Linked DNA regions of Homo sapiens: region 1 is linked to region 2. The links come from fine-mapping of genetic effects on gene expression. A gene starts in region 2. The other region holds a variant in brackets. All regions are shown on one strand. Distances are from middle to middle. Region 1 has its middle 15 kb from the start of COMP. Region 2 holds the start of CERS1 (ceramide synthase 1).

Region 1 (2,898 bases), 90 kb after region 2:
AGCTGCCTGTGCGCCTCCAGCATGACTCAAACCACTCTGCCATTTATTTATTTTATTTATTATTGTTTTTTAATTTTATTTATTTATTTTTGAGACGGAGTCTCGCTCTGTCACCCAGGCTGTAGTGCAATGGTGCAATCTCAGCTCACTGCAACCTCCGCCTCCTGAGTTCAAGCAATTCTCCTACCTCAGCCTTCCAAGTAGCTGGGATTACAGGTGCCTGCTACCATATCCAGCTAATTTTTGTATTCTTAGTAGAAACGGGGTTTCTTTTCTTTTTTTCTTTTTTTTTTTAGACAGAGTCTCGCTCTGTCACCAGGCTGGAGTGCAGTGGCGCGATCTCGGCTCACTGCAACCTCCGCTTGCTGGGTTCAAGCAATTCTCATGCCTCATCCTCCTGATTAGCTGGGATTACAGGAACGTGCCACCACACCCAGCTAATTTTTGCATTTTTAGTAGAGACGGGGTTTCATCATGTTGGGCAGGATGGTCTCGATCTCCTGACCTCGTGATCCACCCACCTTTGTCTTCCCAAGTGCTGGGATTACAGGCATGAGCCACCGCGCCCAGCCGAAACGGGGTTTCACCATATTGGCCAGGCTGGTCACGAACTCCTGACCTTAGCCCCACCTCAGCCTCCCAAAGTGCTGGGATTACAAGCATGAGCTACCATGCCTGGCCTAATTTTTTTTTAAGAGATGAGGTCTCGGCCGGGTGCTGTGGCTCACGCCTGTAATCCCAGCACTTTGGGAGGCCAAGGCAGGCAGATCATGAAGTCAGGAGTTCGAGACCAGCCTGACTAACATGGTGAAACCCCGTCTCTACTAAAAATACAAAAGTTACCTGGGCGTCATGGTGCGCACCTGTAATCCCAGCTACTCAGGAGGCTGAGGCAGGAGAATCGATTGAACCCAGGCGGCAGAGGTTGCAATGAGCCAAGACCACGCCATTGCATTCCAGCCTGGGCAACAGAGGGAGACTTTGTCTCAAAAAAAAAAAAAAAAAAAAGAGGTGAGGTCTCATAATGTTATCCAGGCTGGCCTTGAACTCCTGGTCTCAAGTGATCCTCCTACCACGGCACTCCCAAAGTGCTGGGATTATAGGCATGAGTCACTGTGCCTGCCTATTATTTATTTATGTATTTATGTATTTATTTTGAAATGGAGTCTTGCTCTGTCGCCCAGGCTGGAGTGCAGTGGCACAATCTCTGCTTATTGCAAGCTCCGCCTCCCAGGTTCACGCCATTCTCCTGCCTCAGCCTCCTAAGTAGCTGGGACTACAGGCACCTGCCACCACGCCC[G/A]GCTAATTTTTTTGTATTTTTAGTAGAGACGGGGTTTCACCATGTTAGCCAGGAGGGTCTTGATCTCCTGACCTTGTGATCTGCCCACCTTGGCCTCCCAAAGTGCTGGGATTACAGGCGTGAGCCATCGCGCCCGGCCCTATTTTTTTTTTTTTTTTTTTTTTTTTTTTTTTTTTAGAGAAGGAGTCTTGCTCTGTCGCCCAGGCTGGAGTGCAGTGGTGCAATCTCAGCTCACTGCAATCTTTGCCTCCCAGGTTCAAGAAATTCTCCTGCCTCAGTCTCCCGAGTAGCTGGTACTACAGGCACACACCGCCACACCTGGCTAATTTCTTTTGTATTTTAGTAGAGATGGGGGTTTCACCATGTTGCCCAGGCTGGTCTTGAACTTCTGGTCTTAAGTGATCCTCCCACCATGGCCTCCCAAAATGCTGGGATTACAGATGTGTGCCACTGTGACCAGCCTCACTCTGCCATTTATTGAGGGCAAATTTCTGGGTTGTAGGCCAGGTGTGGTACCTCACACCTGTAATCCTAGCACTTAGAGAGGCCAAGGTGGTTGGATCACTTGAGCCCAGGAGTTTGAGACCAGCCTGGGCAACACAGCAAGACCTTGTCTCTACAAAATATAAAAATTAGCTGGACAGGGTGATATGTGCCTATGGTCCCAGCTACTTGAGAGGCTGAGGTGGAAAGATCACCCAAGCCCAGGGGGTCGAGGCTGCAGTGAGCCGGGATTGCACCACTGCACTTCAGCCTGGGCGACAGAGCGAGACTCCAGCTCATAAATAAATAAATAAATAAAGTTCTGGTTGTAAATCCTGGGGCACTGCTGGGGGAGGTCTGGGGGTCTCAGAGGGTATATGTTTGTGAAACTTTGTTGTGATAGCCAGCATCCTCCTTTGTCCCCAAGGAGACAATCTCACCTAGTATATGCCAGGTACAATGGCACAAACTGCGGATAAACCACGTTCCCAACCTCATGAAAATGTAGCCGAGAAGATCATTTCCAAGAGTGAGAAGTGTCTGAAAGAAATACCTGGGTGTAGGTATTTTTGCCCATGGGTTGGGAAAGGTCTCCTGAGGTGTTGACATTTAAGCCAAGTCCTGGGTCACAGAAGGGTATTTTATGTAAATATGAAGGAAGGGGCTGGGCGCAATGGCTCACACCCATAATCCCAGCACTTGGGAGGCAAAGGTGGGTGGATCACTTGAGGTCAGGAGTTCAAGACCAGCATGACCAGCATGGGGAAACCCCATCTCTGGCCTGGGAGCCCTACAGACCGGGGCCAACCTTGACTCGCCTCATGGGTCCCCACTGCCTGGGCCAGGGCTTGGCAGGCAGGTAGATGCTGCACTTGACCTTGAACGTGGATGCGCTTCTACAGCAATGCCCTGTGTTCCAGACGGGAAGCCGAGTCTCCCCTTGTGCCCGGAGAGATGTGGGGACCCAGCTTTTTGGCCTTCTGATCAGGCCCCTCTGCAGGTCTCAGGCCTGTGGGCTGGCAGGGGCCCCAGGGCCTGTTTTTTCCGCCTGGTGTTGGGATTGACGTCTTGAAGGGGCAACGCCTTGGTGCTGGTGATTATTTTTTTAACCTTTG
Region 2 (2,867 bases):
CTCAAAAAAAAAAATGAGCTGTATGTATGTAGGGGCAGATGGTGACAAGTGCCAAGCAGACATGAAGACATGAGGGGCGTGTGACTTCAGAGTCGGGGGCAGCCTGAGCAGGTGGCAGAAGAGCCATGCAGGTACCTAGGGGAACAGCATTTCAGGAGGGGGGAACAGCTAGTGCAAAGGCCCTGAGGCAGGACAGAGCTTGGCATGTTGGAAGAACAGCAGAAAAGCCCACAGGCGGAGGGAAACAGGGCGCTGTGAGGGCAGCCAGTGAGGACTTGGGCTTTCCCTGAGTGGAACAGGAGCCATAGAGGGCTGCAAGCAGACGAGGAACAGGCCAACAGCGTCGCAGCCACCTTCTCACCTCTGTGGGGTGAGGAGGAAGCCAGGATACCAGACGGAAGAGGGTAGTGGTGGTAGTGGTGGTGGTGGCGGGGAGCGGGGGGCAAGGCTGTGCAGATGCAGAGAAGTGGCCAGATGCAGGGCCACCTGGATGTGTTGTGGGGGACTCGGTGTGGGGCAAGGGGAAGGTGTGTTCACCTGTGCCCCTGAAGTTCAGGTGCAGGTGTTCGGGAGCCAGCGCGGCTGCTGCAGGACTCATCCCTGCATCCTGCACCTTGAAGGCCAGGTGTGGGGACATCCTGCGGGCTAGGATGGAGGGGGGGTGCAGCAGTGCCTGGGGAGATGGCGGTCCTAACAGAGGTGACCAGTGTCTTCCTCGATGGCCTTCAGTGGCTTTGGGCACAGGGCCTTGTCAATGAACAGTGCATTGGAAAGTCACTTATGGTGGTCCCAATGATGTCACAGTCGATCCAGATTGGGAGTCCCTCCCACGTTGGCACCCACTCCTGCAGCCTCTCTGCAACTCATGTATTAACCTGATGTTGGGGAGCCCCCCCCCCGGGTTCCCCAGGGTCACAGCAGCAAGTGACCCTCAGAGAACCCCCTAATCTCAGCAGCCCCCATCACACCTTTGTCCCAGTAGCCCGCTGTGCAGACCTGCAGAAGAAGATGCCTGGGAAGTGCCCAGGGTACCCGCGTCCAAGCTGGAACCCCATTGCCAAGCTCCTGGTGTAGGGCAGAGAGCTGCGTCTCCACTAGGTGCGCCTCCCAACGCCCTGGCGTGGGCCGTGTCCTTTTGAAGAATGAGAATGTTTCATTGAGCCTACGCCTCCTGAATGCGGGAGGGCCACGGGATGGTCCCAAGACTGTGCCAAGGCGTGCCAGGCCTCGGGTCCTTGAGAAGGAGCGAGGGCTCCAAGAACGGTGAGGTCGGAGCGGGCCGGGGCGATGGAGCGGGAGCGGCGTGGCGTGCTGGAGGGCCGGGAGAAGCGGGGGTCGCCAGTCGAGGGGACTGCCTGCTAGTGTCCCCCGTGCCCCCCGTCACGGGCACGGCGCGGTGGGGTGGGGGAGCGGGGGGCGCGCGGGGCAGGCATGGGGGCGCGACACGGCGGTGCGCGGGGTCTCTCGGGGTCCAGGTCCAACGGGCCCCCAGCTCCGGCCCCCGCGCCTGGGTTTCTCTGCTGGGAAACGGGCAGGGGCGCGGGCCCGCCTCCAGGGCGCCCCGCGTCCCCGCTGGCCGCCCCCCAGCCGCGCCCCCAGCGGGGCGGAGCTTGCGCCGGTCCCGCCCCTCCGCCCTCCGCTCTCCCGCCCGCGCGCCCCCGGCCCAGCTGCGGCGCGTGACGCGGGGCGCGCGGCTCCGTCGGCTACCGCGGGCGGGCGCAGGCGACGGGCACGGCGGGCGAGCGGGCGGTATGGCGGCGGCGGGGCCCGCGGCGGGGCCGACGGGGCCCGAGCCCATGCCGAGCTACGCGCAGCTAGTGCAGCGCGGCTGGGGCAGCGCGCTGGCGGCGGCGCGGGGCTGCACGGACTGCGGCTGGGGGCTGGCGCGTCGCGGCCTGGCTGAGCACGCGCACCTGGCGCCGCCCGAGCTGCTGCTGCTGGCGCTCGGCGCGCTGGGCTGGACCGCCCTGCGCTCCGCGGCCACTGCGCGCCTCTTTCGGGTCAGTGTGGCCGGGGGCCGGGACGAGGGGACCCCGGACTGGGGGAAGCCGGGACCGGGGACCTGGGGCCGCCGGCGCGTTCCTTTCTTCCAGCGCTGGCTGCTGCGGATGAAGGGGTCGCCGGAACGTGGGTGGGGGCCTCGGGCTGGAGAGGCCCAGGACGTTGGAGCCCCAGGATAAGGTCTCTCGGGCCGCCGCGCGCCCCCTTCAGACAGTGCTGCGTGGGGGAACCGGGTAGATGCGGGGGTGTGGCCGGGCTGGGGTGAGTCTGGGACATGGGGGGCCCGAGACAGGTGGGATGTTTGAGACGTGGGGGACCGAGGCACGGCCCTTTCCGGTCAGTTTGGGACCAGGGGGCCCCGCGCGGTGGATGGCTCCGGCCACCGCGCGCTCTTTCCGGCAGGGCCGAGCCAGACACTGAGAAGCCCAGGACCGGGAACGGGAGGGCTCGGCGCACCGCGGCCTGCGCCATGCGCCTCCCTGCCATGCGGGCTGCGCCCCGGCCCGGAGCGAGGTCCGCTGCCCGTTTTCTGCTGGGTCCGTGCGGCGGCGGGGCCGGCTTGCCCGCTGTAATCGGGAAGAGGCAGGAGCTGCCCGGTCGCTGCCTTGTGCCTATCTGGGGTCAGCGCCACCCTCCGACCAGGGATGGCAAGGGCCTGGGTGCTCTGGCCACGCCAGTGGTCGCTCCCTTGGAGGTGACATGGCCCGGGGCTTCAGGGTTGGACTGTGCTGCCTCCAAGAGGCGACAGCAGAATTCCCCAGTTTCTGCGGAGACCATCGCCCCTGCGAGAGAGTGACCATGATGGTGACATTGGCGCCTGACCCCACTCACTTCCCTGGGGAGGGGTCGCTGTGGCAGGAGCTGGT

The links. PIP is the estimated chance that this variant, and not a neighbour inherited with it, causes the effect.
Region 1: its variant is fine-mapped to the expression of CERS1 in cerebellar hemisphere (GTEx, PIP 0.98).

Annotation. Positions count from the first base shown.
Region 1 is chr19:18,804,562-18,807,459 of GRCh38, reverse strand. No RefSeq gene overlaps it. Among named protein-coding and RNA genes, the nearest start is that of COMP, 15 kb to the right of the region's middle. RefSeq lists a silencer at 986-1,280. The variant G/A (reference allele first, on the strand shown) is at 1,301.
Region 2 is chr19:18,894,957-18,897,823 of GRCh38, reverse strand. CERS1 (ceramide synthase 1) reads left to right here and starts at 1,666. Exons shown (of 8, transcript NM_021267.5): 1 at 1,666-2,000. The coding sequence starts at 1,752. It overlaps GDF1 (growth differentiation factor 1), which reads left to right and starts at 1,666. Exons shown (of 8, transcript NM_001492.6): 1 at 1,666-2,000. RefSeq lists a silencer at 2,616-2,665.